Regions from separate parts of the Homo sapiens genome. Here all the other regions are linked to region 1. Evidence: fine-mapped expression QTL. A gene starts in region 1. Each other region holds a variant in brackets. All regions are shown on one strand. Distances are from middle to middle. Region 1 holds the start of FAM78A (family with sequence similarity 78 member A). Region 2 overlaps PLPP7 (phospholipid phosphatase 7 (inactive)). Region 3 overlaps LOC105376299 (a long non-coding RNA gene).

Evidence for each region.
Region 2: its variant is fine-mapped to the expression of FAM78A in whole blood (TOPMed, PIP above 0.99).
Region 3: its variant is fine-mapped to the expression of FAM78A in left ventricle (GTEx, PIP 0.98).

The regions. Positions count from the first base shown.
Region 1 is chr9:131,273,962-131,279,177 of GRCh38, reverse strand. It overlaps FAM78A (family with sequence similarity 78 member A), which reads left to right and starts at 2,668. Exons shown (of 2, transcript NM_033387.4): 1 at 2,668-3,321. The coding sequence starts at 2,999. RefSeq lists enhancers at 859-958, 3,139-3,638, 3,799-3,848, 3,879-3,928, 3,341-3,953 and 3 more and a silencer at 1,319-2,498.
Region 2 is chr9:131,302,232-131,307,447 of GRCh38, reverse strand. The region is part of intron 1 of PLPP7 (phospholipid phosphatase 7 (inactive)); the gene reads right to left. Among named protein-coding and RNA genes, the nearest start is that of PLPP7, 15 kb to the right of the region's middle. The variant G/A (reference allele first, on the strand shown) is at 2,165.
Region 3 is chr9:131,332,785-131,338,000 of GRCh38, reverse strand. All of the region lies in intron 1 of LOC105376299 (a long non-coding RNA gene), which reads right to left. Among named protein-coding and RNA genes, the nearest start is that of PLPP7, 46 kb to the right of the region's middle. The variant G/T (reference allele first, on the strand shown) is at 3,100.

The sequences.
Region 1 (5,216 bases):
CTGCCTTGGCCCGAGTCAGTGGGACTAGGAATAAGCCACCTACTAGCTGAACTGGAAAGGGACCACCTCCTCATTAGCTGGGGATACGGGCCATAGCAGTGCTGGGGTGAGGGTGTGGCTGGGTGAGAGGCGGAGGCCACCCTAGCCAGCCACTTCCTGCTCCATGGCTGAGCCGGTGCTGCTGTGAGATGTCCTGGTTGTTAACCCCTCAAAGGAGAGATCCAAGAGTGGCCAGCCCCTCGGTCCCTCCAGCCCTGCCCTCACACACTCAGCGTGCTCCGGCTCTGGGACTGGCTGGAAGCACCTGCCCTGTGCCGGCTGTGGGCACCTGTGGAAGTCAGAGTCATGGGGATGGGGTGGGGACGAAGAGCGTGGCTTTAATGTAGCTGCCAGATGTACTTATGTCACAAATTGCTTGGGCTTTCCCTACGGCTGGCTGGAAGGTAGGGGTGGGGTTCATAGCTCTCCCATGGCTGTACAGCCTCATGCTCCTTTTGAGCCCCTGCACTGGGACCCCTGCGGGGGGACGGGGGGAAGGACCTTGGGCAAATCCCCTAGCCTCTCAGCTCTGGGTGCCTGCTCTGTGAAGTGCACATCATCAGTCTCCCTCCACAGGGAGGCCGATGGTGGCTGAAATGATGCTCTGTACAGCGCTCATCACACAGCCGGGGTCCAACAGGCAGCCAGCAGACCTGCTCGAGGGGACCCACCTCTCCCCAAACTGCTCTCCCCTCCCCGCGACCTTCCCAGCCTTGGAGCCTACAAAGCCCCCGCGCTGTCTCCACCAAGCCACTGTCTCCCTGCGGTCAGGAACCCCAGGGCAAGGGAGCCCTTCTGCGGGTGCTCCGAACCCCAGAAAGCCTCTGGTCCATAGAGTTCAAAGGGCACTGGGAGCAGCCCACCTGGCCCCGAGACAGCAGCGGAACTACACTACCCAGAATTCCCGGGGCTGGCCAAAAAGGAAATGTCGTTTGTTCAAGGAGAGGCTCAGCTCCCCGAGCAGCTGCAGAGACAGGGAGCGAGGGGGAGCGAGGGATTACCAGGGGGAGGGCGGGCTGTGTGCGGGGAGCGAGGGTGGAGAGCCAGGCGGGCGGGGAGGAGGAGGCGGCGCCCGCCCGCCGCCGCCGCCGCCGCCTGCGGACCTGCATCCCCGCGGGGCCGGCGAGCGGGCGGCGGTCCCTGCGTGCGCCGGCTGCGCTCGGCCGGCGGCGGCGGCGAGCGGACGCGGGGGCCGGGCCGGCGCAGGGGCCGAGTTTCTGCAAAGTTTGACCCGGTTGCCTTTCCGATGCTGCAGCAGAGCGAGGCAGCGCGGGGCGCGCCAGGCGGCAGCGGCGCGGCGGCGGGGCTGAGCGGCGACAGCGCGCTCACAATGATCATAAAATAAAGGAGGCGCGCGGGGTGGGGGCGAGAGAGCCCCGAGCCTCAGCCCTCCGCCCCCGGCCGCCCCCCCGAAGCCCCAAGCCGGGAGGAGGGTGGGGGCCGGGGGCGCCCACGCCGGCCCCAGACTCCAGTAGAGCCAAGGGACAGTGCCCGGGGAAGGGGGTGGGGGCGCCCCAAGAACGTGCCCGCGGCCGGGTCAGGGGCGTCCGGAGAGCGGCTGCCCGGGCCAGCGGAGTGGCCCCCGGGGCAGGTGAGTCGGCGGCGCCGCCCGAGTGGGGGCGTGCGCGCCAAAGTTCCCCGGCAGCGGCGAGCGCGCCCGACGCGTGGGGACCCGGGGCTGCTCGCGGCTGGAGAGGGGCGACAGAGGCGCTTGACGCGGCGGAGCGGGGGCACTATGCCCTCCGAGGGCCGAGGGACCCCAGCCGGGAAAGGGGTGCCCGCCGGATCCGACGGCACTGGTGGGTGGCCCTGCGCCCAGGGAGCCGGAGGGACCGGGGTGGGGAAGGGGCACCTGGCGCTGGCGGCGCGGCGGTGGGGACAGAGCAGGGCAAGTGCTCGCCGCCCCCTGCAGCGGCAGCCGCTCGCCCCCCACCCCGCCCGTCCGGGACGGTATCAGCGGAGATGTCACGGGCGGCTATTATTCGCTGGTGCGCGCGGTCGTGCGGCCGCCACTGACGGGGCGGGCGCGGGGGGCGGGGGCCACCGCCTCCGGGGAGACCGCCCAGAGCTGCGCCGTCAGCTCCGCAGCCCGCGCCCAGCGCACACGCGTCGCCGCCCCCGCGCGCCCCCCGCAGCAAAGTTCGGCTTAACTTTGAGGCTGGCCTTGACGCGCTGTCCCTTCCACCTCCCACCAGGTCCTCGGCGGCCGCGGCGAAGCAGGCGGCGGCGGCCGGAGCGCAGCCCCGGGACCCTGCACGGCGGCCGGCAGCGACAGCGGCGAAGGGACGCGGCGCCCCTGCGTGGGGACGTCCGGCCCGCGCCCGCGAGTGGGCGCCGACGGGGACCCGCGCCGCGCTCCCCCGTCACCGGCGAGCGGCCGGAGCCCTGAGCTCGCCTCCTGGAAGCCGCGGGTCGGCGCTCGCCCCGAGGGCGCCGGGACCTCGGCCGGGTGAACACAAACTGCTCTGCAATTGATTCGACCGCGCCGGGCGGGTGCGGGTGCGGGGCCCGGAGGGAGCGCGTGCGGAAGGCCGGAGGGCAGGAAGTCAGGCTTCTGCCGCGAGGGTGGCGCGGCCGCGCGGGGACAGAGCCTTCCTTATTTATGAGTCTGCCGGCGCTCGCCTGCTTCCTCCGAAGACTTCAGGGAGAGTCTGCGAGCTGCCGTCCCCGCGTGTGAGGCACAGAAGGGCTGGATGTCAGAACCGCATAATTATTCATTAAACTACAAACTTTTTTTAACCCAAAGAATATCGGTGATTTTTGTCCACTGCGAGGAGAAGAAGAGAGAGCCCAGGGCTCATGAAATGCAGCAGAATCCTTATTTATAAACAGGCCGCGGTAGTGATATATGCAACCCCAGTCTACTCAGTGAGTTTTCTATCCTATGGATATCGGTCTTGAGAGTTGAGATTGGAGAGCAGCGCCGTCTGTACTGGGTCCTGCAGCCTCTGTCCTTTCAATGCCTGGTTTTTTCTGTGACTGCTGGCCTTCCCTGGAGATCAGAGCGCTCCTGTATGCCATGGGCTGTATTCAGAGCATCGGAGGCAAAGCCAGAGTCTTCCGGGAAGGGATCACGGTGATTGATGTGAAAGCCTCCATCGACCCCGTCCCCACTAGCATCGATGAGTCCTCCAGCGTGGTGCTCCGCTACCGGACACCCCACTTCCGGGCCTCGGCCCAGGTGGTCATGCCGCCCATCCCCAAGAAGGAGACTTGGGTAGTTGGCTGGATCCAGGCGTGCAGCCACATGGAGTTCTACAACCAGTACGGCGAGCAGGGCATGTGAGTACGGCCGAGAGCCAGCTCTGGGAACTGCTAGGGATGGCCGAGCTTGGAGGCCTGGTGGGGGGCCGCGGATAGGGGGAAGGTGGAGATACCATGAAGACAGGACGGAGGCCAGAGGGAAGCTTTAGGCAGGTATGCAGGTGGCCTCATTGGCCCGGTGGCTCCCTGAAAAGTTTGCCTGTGGATCCAGATTGGAGTCACGGTCCTGCAATCTACCCTGCCACTGTTCCCCCCGGGTTCCTGTGTCCTTCCCTGCAAGATGCCGAGAAAGCAGAGAGACATTACTCCCAGTGTTTCCTGGCAGAGCAAGTGTGCCGTCCGCCTGAGGAGTGTCTGTGCCATCAGGGGTCACCAGAGAGGCTGCAGGGCTGCCCTCCAGGCCTCTGGCCCTGTGCGGGCCCATGGCAGACATTCAGGCACTCTGCAACTCCCAGACCGGTGTGTTCAGGGCTTTGCGATTGGGCCTCAATTATCTTTCTGGCTTTTACCAGTGTATGCCAGGAGCTGGGGGAGTGCTTCCCCGTTCCAAACGGCACTGTGTTTGAGAGCACAGTTAGTTTTAGAAGCCCGATTTCTTCACAGTGTATCGCTTTCTGTCTCCAAGGCAGAAGACCGCTTTATGCAGACAAGTCCAGTGTCCCTCTGGCGAGGCCCTAACAGGAACAGCAAAGAGGAGCCTCTCCTCTGCAGCCCCAAAGCCCGGTCTCCAGAGTGTGCCTAGGGTATTGGGGGTCCCGGTGAGGACCCTGGGACCCTGGGGCTCCTTTCCTGGCCTGCTTCCTGACCCCAGAGAAGGCCGTCCCCAGGGTGAAAAGAGCTGCATTTAGGCAGAGTTGGGAGAGTGACTTAATCTGAAGGTTCACCCTAAGACAGGGATGGTGAAAATAGCTGTTTCTGAGCGTAAGGACCCTTTGGAGAGAGCTAGGCAGGCCCCGGCGGGCAGCCCACCCATGCGGCCCCGTGACTGGCCGCTGACACTCCCAGAACCTCTCTCAGTGTCTACCCTGTGGCCCCGTGACTGGCCGCTGACACTCCCAGAGCCTCTCTCAGTGTCTACCCTGTGCAGCTTCACGTCCCCGTTTTGCAAGTGGGGAAAAGAGGAGAATTTCCCCAGGAGCTGGAACTTATCACAGATTTAAGAATCTCATGGGCCACCTGTAAATGAGAGGGGTGGAGGATGGCGGGACACCAAGTCTGGTGGCTTCTCTACTTAATGACTCCAAAGTTCTAAAGGAAACATGAGGATCACAGTAACCCTTAAGTCCAGCGTGTGACAGTGACTGTCCCAAAGAGGTACATGGGGGGCACATCTAGAGGCTCTCACCGGCCCTCTCCACCAGCCTGATTTCTGTGCCAACCCCTTTGTGTCTCAAGAGCAGCTAGTAATCCAGTTCGGGGGAGGGGGTGCTGCCTTTCTGTTCTAAGCAGGGAAACATGATTCTTAGTTATGCAGTGAGGACCTTTTCTAAGAACGCTTAAGCCCAGAAACCTCCTCGGGCTTTGAAGGCATCGGGACAGTTGTAGAAACAAAAGTTTTCCTCGGGGTTTTGGGCTAAGCCTAGTTTCTTCCCTGGAAGGGGTAAGGAAGCCAGTGGGTTCTTCTGAACTTGGAAAGACATGAGCACTCACGGGACTGGATGCTAATGTGGTTGGTGCAACGTGTGGTGGGGAGGCCACAGGCCTGACCCAAGGTACAGACTCCAAGCCTCAGCTTCCCCATCTGTGCACATGGGCTTCCGATGTCTTGTCTAAGACTTGTTCTCCATCTGGTGACCCTGAGTAGGTGTGGGTGATGTGGCTGGAGCTAGGCCTGAGACTGGGACCTGAGACAACCCTGCCCTCCCTGTCGCAGTCCTGGCTTCCTGGTTGGAAGAGCCTCATGCCTTCTTAGG
Region 2 (5,216 bases), 28 kb before region 1:
CCTGAGTAGCTGGGATTACAGGCACCCACCACCACGTCCAGCTAATTTTTGTACTTTCAGTAGAGATGGGGCTTTGCCATGTTGGACAGACTGGTCTCAAACTCCTGACCTCAGGTGATCCACCCGCCTCAGCCTCCCATTGTGCTGGGATTACAGGTATGAGCCACTGCGCCCGGCCCTTTTTCCTTTTTTTTTTTTTTTTGATACAGGGTCTTGCTCTATTGCCCAGGCTGTAGTGCAGTGGCCTGATCTTGGCTCACTGCAACCTCCACCTCCTGGGTTCAAGGAATTCTCATACTTCAGCCTCCCGAGTAGCTGGGATTACAGGTGCACACTACCATGCTTGGCTAATTTTTTGTATTTTTGGTAGAGATGGGGTTTTGCCATGTTGGCCAGGCTGGTCTCCAACTCCTGGCCTCAGGTGACCTGCCCGCCTCAGCCTCCCCAAGTGTTCACCCATTACAGGCGTGAGCCACTGTGCCCAGCCCCATTCCCATTTTTCAAAAATTGAAGCAAAATTTACATCTTGTACAGTGAACCATTTTAGAGTGCACGCTTCAGCGGCATTCAGCACATCACAATGTCAGCAGCCACCTCCTCTCTCTAATTTCAAAACATTTCATCATCCCAAAAGAATGCCCCATACCCACGAAGCAGCCACTCCCCATCCCCTTCTCTCCAGCCCCTGGGACACCACCAATCTGCTTTCCTCTAGAGGATTTGCCTCCTCTAGACACTCCATGTAAATGGAATCAGACAGCATGTGGCCTTTTGTGTCTGCCTTCCTTTCCTTAGCATAATGTTTCCAGCATCCACCCATGTGGCAGCGCTTCATTCCTTTTCATGGCCGAATAATATTCCACTGTATGGATGGACCACTATTTGTTCATCTTCTCTTTCTTTTTTTTTTTGAGATGGAGTCTCGTTCTGTTGCCCAGGCTGGAGTGTGGTGGCATGATCTCGGCTCACTGCCCACCTCCCGGGTTCACGTGATTTTCGTGCCTCAGCCTCCTGAGTAGCTGGGATTACAGGCGCACGCTGCCTCGCCTGGCTAATTTTTGTATTTTTAGTAGAGACGGGGCTTTGCCATGTTGGCCAGGCTGGTCTCAAACTCCTGACCTCAAGTGATCCGCTTGCCTTGGCCTCCCAAAGTGCTGGGATTACAGACATGAGCCACCGCGCCCGGCCTCTTTATTTTATTTGATTTTTTTGAGACAGAGTCTCGCTCAGTCATCCAGGCTGGAGTGCAGTGGTGCCATCTCGGCTCACTGCAAGCTCCGCCTCCTGGGTTCACGCCATTCTCCTGCCTCAGCCTCCTGAGTAGCTGGGACTACAGGCGCCTGCCACTACGCCTGGCTAATTTTTTGTATTTTTAGTAGAGACGGGGTTTCATCGTGTTAGCCAGGATGGTCTCGATCTCCTGACCTCGCGATCCGCCCGTCTTGGCCTCCCAAAGTGCTGGGATTACAGGCGTGAGCCACCGCACCTGGTGTTTTTTTTTTAAGAGACGGATGTCTCTGGCTGGGCACGGTGGGTCACACTTATAATCCCAGCACTTTGGGAGGCTGAGATGAGCATATTGCTTGAGCCCAGGAGTCCGAGACTAGCCTGGGCAACATGGCAAAACCCTGTTTGTACAAAAAATACAAAAATTAGACATGTGTGATGGCATACGCCTGTAGTTTCAGCTATCAGGAGGCTGAGGTGGGAGGATTGCTTAAGCCCAGGAGTCTGAGACCAGCATGGGCAACATGGCAAAACCCCATCTCTACAAAAAAATACAAAAATTAGCTGAGTGTGGTGGTGCACGCCTCTCATCCCAGCTACCCAGGAGGCTAAGGTGACAGAGTGAGACCCTGTCTTAAAAAGAGAGAGAGAGGGAAACAGAGAGACAGAGATGGTGTCTCTTTCTGTTGCCCAGGCTGGAGTGTAGTGGTGCAATCATAACTCACTGTAACTTTGAATTCCTGGGCTCGAGAGATCCTCCTCCCTCAGTCTCCTGAGCCACCGAGACTACAAGTGTGCCACCATGCCCAGCTAATTAAAAAAAAATTTTTTTTTTACAGATGGGCATCCCACTTTGCTGCCTAAGATGGTCTCAAACTCCTGGCTTCAAGCTATCTTCCTACCTCAGCCTCCCAAAGTGCTGGGATTCCAGGCGTGA[G/A]CCACTGTGCCCGGCCACAATTTGTTTATCCATTCATCTATTGATGGCTATCGAGTTGTTTGCGCCTTTCGGCTGCCGTGACTCATGCTGCTATGCACGTGTGTGCAAGTGTTTGCCGAGTGCCTGTTTTCAGTTCTTTTGGTAGATCCCTAGGACTGGAGTCGCTGGTTGGTAATGACAGTAACTCTGTGTGTGACTCTTTGAGGAACCCCACTGTTTTCCCCAGCAACTGCGCTGTGTCATTCCCCCCTTTATAGAGGACAAGATGAACCCCTGGAGCTCAGAGCACTCATACCTGAGGCTCTTGCTTTCTGGAATGTTCCACTCTTTCCCAACTCACCACCTCAGGGACCTGCCCCGGCCTTCCAGACAGCTCAGGCCCTGAATGGTTCAGTCTCAACATCTGGCCCTCTGTTTCGTGGCTTTTCCCCCGCAGTCACTGAGGCATCTGTTGGGAGGTGAGGGTTCGCTGTCTGCGGCATGAAGTCATCACTTCGTGGAGGCAGGGGCTGTGCCTGTTTGTTCATAGGTTTTTTTCCCCGTGGCTAGAAACAGAGCCACAGTCTCCAAACGTAGTTGAGTTACTGGCCTGAGGCTCATAACCAGCGAGGTGGGCTCTTTCCTTCCTTTTCTTTTTCTTTATTTTTTTGAGACAGAGTCTCACTCTGTCACCCAGGCTGGAGTACTGCAGCATGATCTTGGCTCACTGCAATCTCCGCCTTCCGGGTTCAAGTGATTCTCCTGCCTCAGCCTCCCGAGTAGCCAGGACAACAGGTACCTGACACCACGGCTGGCTAATTTCTGTATTTTTAGTAGAGACGGGGTTTCGCCATGTTGGCCAGGCTGGTCTCGAACTCCTGACCTCAAGGGATCTGCCCACCTCCGCCTCCCAAAAAGTGCTGGGATTCCAGGCGTGAGCCACTGCGCCTGGCCTTTCTTTCCCCATTTCGGAAACACAGGGGAGACCTGGATCTCCATCGTGTCTCTGCCACACCCTGCTGTGTGGCCTTGGGGGGCTGCTCCGCCTTTCTGTGCCGAGAGAGGAAGGCACCATGCCAGGACCCCAGTTTCACCCAGCTGATCTGAGTGGCACCCAGACCGCCAATGTGGGGGTTCCAGGTCAACCCTCCACACCCTTAGAAAGGCCCTTGGGGCTCACACCCTCTGACCTGGGGGTGGGGGTGGCATCAGCAGGCCAGACAGCACCCCCAGGGCAGGTACAGAGTCGGCAGGGAGCCCGTGCCCCTGCCCCCTGTGCTTCCCCATCTCAGGTGACCTTGGGGACCCCAGTGAGGTCACAGCTCCTGCAAGCCCTGCCTCACGGACAGTGAAGACAACACCCACAGTGCAGTGTGGTGGCAAAGCTCACAGGCATCACAGCCAGAGACCCAGCTGTGAGCTCCAGCCCTGGAGCCTCCCAGCTGTGTGACCTCAGGCAAACCACCTAACTTTCCTCACCTGTGAGACGAAGCTCAGGGACACCCACCTCCCAGAGGGGGCCAGGCACCATGCCTGCAGGCAGGTTGCTGACTGCAGGGTGACAAGGTTTCACTGGGACAGAGGGGTTTCCTAGGACACAAGATATTCAGTGCTAAAGCATGGAAGTCGCAGCAAATGATTGAGTTGGTCCCCCAAACGCCTGGCCCACCAGGAGGGCTGGATAAAGGTGGGGGGTTATGACTCAATGACAGTTCAGTGCAGCCAGATGCTGGGAGCTTTCCTAGAAAACTTTTCAGTATTTATCGGAATGTTCAGCTCTTGGCAGAAATGGAAAAAAAGTAAAAAAAAAAAAAAAGACACAGAAGATGCTATTCACTGCAGAACATTTACAAAACAGAAAACAAAAGTTAGAGTTTAAATCACCTGTAATCCTGCCCCTCAGAGGTAGTCATTGTTCCAGACCTTTCCATCCACTTATAGAGCACAGCTTTTTTTTTTTTTTTTTTTTTTTAAGACAGAGTTTCCCTCTTGTTGCCCAGGCTGGAGTGCAATGGTGTGATCTCGGCTCACCACAACCTCCGCTTCCCAGGTTCAAGCGATTCTCCTGCCTCAGCCTCCCGAGTAGCTGGGATTACAAGTGTGTGCTACCACGCCCAGCTAATTTTTCTATTTTTAGTAGAGATGGAGTTTCTCCATGTTGGTCAGCCTGGTCTTGAACTCCCGACCTCAGGTGATCCGCGCACCTCAGCCTCCCAAAGTGCTGGGATTACAGGCGTGAGCCACCGTGCCCGGCCTTTGGAGCATAGATTTAATAAAGCTTGTAACATGGTTTGCATATGTTGTTCTGCTGCCTGCTTTTGAAAGTCTTGCACCATCACATACCCCCGATCCCCTTGCTGCAGGGTGTGAGGCACTGTGGTGCACCTAACTGTCCATGCCAGGCAGTTAGACTGTTCCAGATCACGCAGTCCTCCCTGGAGGACTAGAACTTCAGGGCTTCCCCTTTTCCTGCCCACTTCAGGGTTGCTGCTTGTAGTCTGGTCTCTCTGTTTGGGGTTTGAATCGTGGCATCTCCTGGCCCCTCTCATTAGCCACAGGGCTGGCTGAGAGCCTTGCACCCTGGAAGTGCCTGGCCAGCACAGGAGGGGGCTGAGCAGGTACACAGAGGAGCTGGCTGGCCCAAGGAGGGCGGGGCCTGAAGGCCTCGAGAAAACCTTGCTCTACCCTTGCCTGCCAATTTCACGGCAGCTGTTCCCCTGGGCTGGGTCTTCCCAGGAGGTGGCTGGGGAGGCGTGTGGCTGGCCAGCTCGTGTGCTGACCATGCCCGGGTTTCGTGCCATCTGAAGCCTGTGGGAGGTCACAGTTCCAGCAGGAGAGAGGGACTGGGGACTGCCAGGTCCCCAGGGCAGGCGGGAGAGGGAGGTAGCTGTGCTGACCTTGGCATCCCTTCGCCCCATGAAGCAGCTGAGGAAGCCAGCTTAGAGGGGCCAGCTGGTCCTCTCCAGCCCAGGGAGCCCTCTCATCTGCAAGCCCCACCACTTCCCCAAAAATGGCCTGGTGACAGGCTTTCTCCACCTGGCGAGGGAAGGCAGTTCATGGGGAGGGGGTTAAA
Region 3 (5,216 bases), 59 kb before region 1:
AGGCATGAGCCAATACGCCTGCCCCCCTCCTTTTGATTTTAATTTCATATTTTTGAGATGGAGTCTTACTCTGTGGCCCAGGCTGGAGTGCAGTGGTGTGATCCTAGCTCACTGCAGCCTCAAACTTCTGGGCTGAAGTGATCCTCCTGCCTCAGCCTTCGGAGTGTCTGGGACCATGGCATGTGGTGCCACCACACCCGGCTAGTTTTATGTTGTTATTGAGACAGAGTCTTCCTATGTTGCTCAGGCTGATCTCAAACTCCTGGGCTCCTCCCACTTCAGCCTCCTAAAGTGTTGGGATTACAGGCGTGAGCCACTGCACCGGGCCACATTTCCCCTTTTTATAAGGACACCGGTCATATTGGATTAGGGTCTCACCCCCCGATGACCGCATCTTAACCCGGTTACCTCGGTAAAGACCACATGAGGTCACATTCTGAGGGACTGGAGGTTAGAACATCAGCATATTTTTTTGGGGACGCACAATTCACCCCTTAACAGCCTGTAAGCAAAGACAACTTGGTAGCAGCGAGCACAGCAAGCTCTCAGATCCTGGGGCATTTGCTGCTGGCCTTCCTCAGGTCAAAAGATCTGATGCTGCCCCTACTCCACTCACACATCCAGCTGAGGCCCAGGGGTTGCAAAAGCCTGGACTGGAGGGTGTGAGGACCTTTCACGAACGCCGCCTACCCTGAGCTAGCTGGGGGTCCCTGTGCATTACGCAGTCAGGCTGGAGCCCTGGCCCCAGCGGCAGGTGTCAGATTAGAGAAAGAGGGGCTGTAGCTAGGCCAGCTCCCTCATGTTGCAGATGAGGAAACTGAGCTCAGGGGATGTGGGCTGATCTTGGACCACAGAGGATGTTAGTGTTGGGGCCGCACTGGGATCAGGTCTTCCGAGCTCTCCCACCCCTCTCTGCCACCCGCAGCTTGGACACTCCTTGCTCTGGGAGGCCTCCATGGCCACCTGGGCCAGGGCCCTTCATTACGCATCCTACTGCACTGATCGTGACACACAGCCCCTCTCCCCTCATCTCCTCCGGCCCCCATCGCTCCGCGCTGACCCCACTGACCTCTCGCTCTTCCTTGAACTGGCACAGGCCTTCGCTGGCCTCCCAGGTCTCTGCAAAGATCTCTCCCTCACTGCTTCGGGTATTTCCTCAAAGGTGGGCTCCCTGGCCATCGCATCTCAAACACAAGCCTCCTGCTGGCTCTTCCTAGTTCCTCTCCGTAGCTCTTACCACCGGAAAGTTTTGTGATCCTGTTTACAGAGGAGGACTCTGGAGCTCAGGGAGGGTGTGGCTTGTGCAGGCCACTGAGAGGGCAGGACCAGGACCCAGACTTGACTGTCACATTGATGCCCAAACCAGGCAGTGCTGCCCTTTGAGCCTCCAAAGGGAAGGGAATGGGTCTCATTCTCTTTGTCCTCCTTCGCCGTACCATGCTGGTGCATATGTAATAAGGGCCATGAATTTAACTTGATCAGAAAGGGCACATTTTGGACTCCAACTTGGGATAGGAAAGCTCCCTGGCCACCTGAGTTGGATGCCCCTGCAATGACCACCTTTTCCCACTAGAGGGCGCTGTAGGACAGAAACTCAGCCGAGAGTGGCCCTGACAGCCGGGTCCATTGAGACCAGCCTGGACAGCCAGGGCTCCCAAGGCTCGCCCTTCAGGACAGCTGCCTCACTGGGTCCTTATAGCAAAACCAGAAATGAAGTACCATTACCATCCCCACTTTACACATTAAGAAATCGAGGACCAGCCTGGCCAACATGGTGAAACCCCGTCTCTACTAAAAATAGAGAGAAACCCCATCTCTACTTGGAAGGCTGAGGCATAAGAATCACTTGAACCTGGGAGGCGGATGTTGCAGTGAGCCAAGATCGAGCCACTATACTCCAGCCTGGGCGACAGAGTAAGACTCTGTCTCAAAAAAAAAAAAAAAAAAAAAAAGGCCAGGCACGGGTGGCTCACGCCTGTAATCCCAGCACTCTGGGAGGCCGAGGCAGGCAGATCACGAGGTCAGGAGATCGAGACCATCCTGGCTAACACAGTGAAACCCCATCTCTACTAACAAATACAAAAAATTAGCCGGGTGTGGTGGTGGATGCCTGTAGTCCCAGCTACTCGGGAGGCTGAGGCAGGAGAATGGCGTGAATCCGGGAGGCGGAGCTTGCAGTGAGCCGAAATCGTGCCACCCACTGCACTCCAGCCTGGGCGACAGAGCGAGAGTCTGTCTCAAAAAAAAAAAAAAAAAAAAAAAGAAAGGAAAGAAAAGAAAAAAGAAACCAAGGCTCAGGCCGAGCAGTGTGTGGCTCATGCCTGTAGTCCCAGCACTTTGGGAGGCTGAGGCCAGAGGATGGCTTCAGCACAGGAGTTGAGGCCAGCCTCGGCAACATGGTGAGACCCCCGTGTCTACAAAAACAAATACAAATGTTAGCTGGGTGTGGTGGCACAGGCCTATAGTCGCAGCTACTCAGGAGGCTGATGTGGGAGGATTGCTTGAGCCCAGGAGGTCAAGGCTGCAGTGAGCTATGATTGTGCCACTGTGTTCCAGCCTGGGTGACAGAATGACACCTTGTTTCAAAAAGAAAGAGAGAGAGAGAGAGAGAGGGAGGGAGGGAGGGAAGAAGGAGAAAAGAAAAGAAAAGAAAAGAAGGAAGGAAGGAAGGAACCAAGGCTTAGTGTTGATAAGGGATTTGTCCCAAGTGAGCACCTTAGAAATGGGAGAACCAGGGCTGCAACTCAGCTCCCATCCCAAACCCACACTGTTGGCTGCTCAAACCCCTTCCCTCTCCCAGGCTGCTTGGCTCTGTCTTTCCTCCTGGATCCCTTCTAGGAAGGGTCCCTTCAGCTCGGTGAGATTTGCCCAATATGCTCAGCAGTGGGTTGGGGGGCTCCCCCACATTAATTTGTTCTGGGAGACTCTGGGCTGTGGGGCTGCTAGGGGGCACCTGGAGAAGGAGTAGGGGTGGGGCTGTGTTGCCATGGGGAGGGGGATCCGGGCCGCAGGGCTGGGAGTCCTTCTGTTCCAGCCCCTGGCAGAGCCGGCCCCCTGGGAACCGGCCAGGCTTATTAATATCCTGCTGAGTCAGGGGGC[G/T]CTTGAGTTTCGGCATCACAAGACCCAGAGGCTGAGCACTGCAGGGATATTCTTAACTCCCCAGGCACCCTCTCCCTCCCACCGGCCCTGCCCACCCCTGGCTGGGGCCTTGCAGGCCTGAGTTGCCACGTGGCCTGGGGTAAAGCACTTCCCCGGACTGTGAAATGGAGACAAGAACTGTCCTGCCCCGGCTGTAATTAGACAGTGTTCCTAAACGGTTTGATGTATGCGAAGGGCTAAGAAGCAAGAGCTGTCCTGGAAAATGCTTTTTTTTTTTTTTTTTTTTTTTTTTGAGACGGAATCTCGCTCTGTTGCCCAGGCTGGAGTGCAGGGGCGTGATCTCAGCTCACTGTGACCTCTGTCTCCAGAGTGCAAGCCATTCTTCTGCCTCAGCTGGAATTACAGGCGCCCACCACCACGCCCGGCTAATTTTTGTATTTTTAGTAAAGACGGGGTTTCACTATGTTGGCCAGGCTGTTCTCAAACTCCTGTCGTCAGGTGATCCTCCTGCCTCAGCCTCCCAAGTGCTGAAATTACAGGCATGAACCACCGCACCTGGCCTAGAAAATGCTTTTTTGAGGACCTGCTACACAGGGGCCCTGGCCTGGAGGCTGGGGTCCTACAGCAAGGGGTGGCGCAGCCCCTCTCTTACAGAGCTCACTGCCTGCACCCACAGGCCCCCGCCAGCAGCCTCAGCTGAGTGGGCTCGGCCAGGGCTGGACACAAGCTGGGCCTGGGTTTGAGCTCTCCTGGCCATTTGGAATCGGGTCTGGGAGACTCTGGTCACATGGGGTGGGCTCTGTCTAACTGGAAGAGAAACTGGACTTGGGGTGAGGGATCCATGAGGGGCAGCCATGATAGCAGAGGGGGCTGGTCTGCAGAGGATGGAATGAGGCACATGCACAAAAGCCCGGGGCCCCAGGAGAGAGGCTCCCCTGCTCCCAGCTCTGCCCCTTGCACCCTCTTCCCAGCCCAGGTTCCAGGAAGCTGCCCTGTGTCCTCAGACACTGCCCTCATGGCTACTCCCAACCCACACAGCCCTGCAGAGGCAGGTGGAGGGGAGAGCACTTCTTCATCTCCGGGCCCTTGGGATTCCAGCAGTCATGGTTTTTGTGTTTTTTTGTTTTTGTTTTTGTTTTTGAGACAGGGTCTTGCTCTGTTGCCTAGTCTTGTCTTGAACTCCTGGGCTCAAGGGATCCTTCCTCGTTGGCCTCCCAAAGCACTGGGAGCCAGTGTCATGGTTTAAAAACCGTTTACAGGGCTAGGTGTGGTGGCTCACGCCTGTAATCCCGGCACTTTGGGAGGCCGAGGCGGACAGATCACGAGGTCAGGAGATTGAGATCATCCTGGTTAACACAGTGAAACCCCATCTCTACTAAAAATACAAAAAATCAGCTGGGCGTGGTGGCACATGCCTGTAATCCCAGCTAGTGTCTTTCTCTGTCACCCAAGCTGGAGTGCACTAGTTGGGAGGCTGAGGCAGGAGAATCGCTTAAACCTGGGAGGCAGAGGTTACAGTGAGCCGAGACTGCACCACTGCACTCCAGCCTGGGCGACAGAGTGAGACTCTCTCAAAAACAAAAACAAAAACAAAAACAAAACAAAAAAAACCACATTTACATGCCGGGTGTGGTGGCTTGTGCCTATAATCCCAGGACTTTGGAAGGCCGAGGTAGGTGAATCACTTGAGGTCAGGAGTTCGAGACCAGCCAGTCCAACATGGTGAAACCCTGTCTCTACTAAAAATACAAAAATAAGTTGGGCATGCTGGTGGGGGCCTGTAATCTCAGCTACTTGGGAGGCTAAGGCAGGAGAATCACTTGAACCCAGCAGGTGGAAGTTGCAGTGAGCTGAGATCACACCACCACACTCCAGCTTGGGTGACAGAGAAAGACACTATCTAAAAAAAACAAAAACAAAACATTTACTGAGGGCTTACCAGTCCCCAAGCCCATTTTGCGTGCAATATGTGTGCCATCTCCCCAAACCCTCATGAGGTGCCTTTGAGGTAGGTACTTGGTTCTCCTCTTTTTTTTTTTAGATGGAGTTTCACTCTTGTTGCCCAGGCTGGAGTTCAGTGGGCTCACTGCAACCTCCGCCTCCCGGGTTCAAGCGCT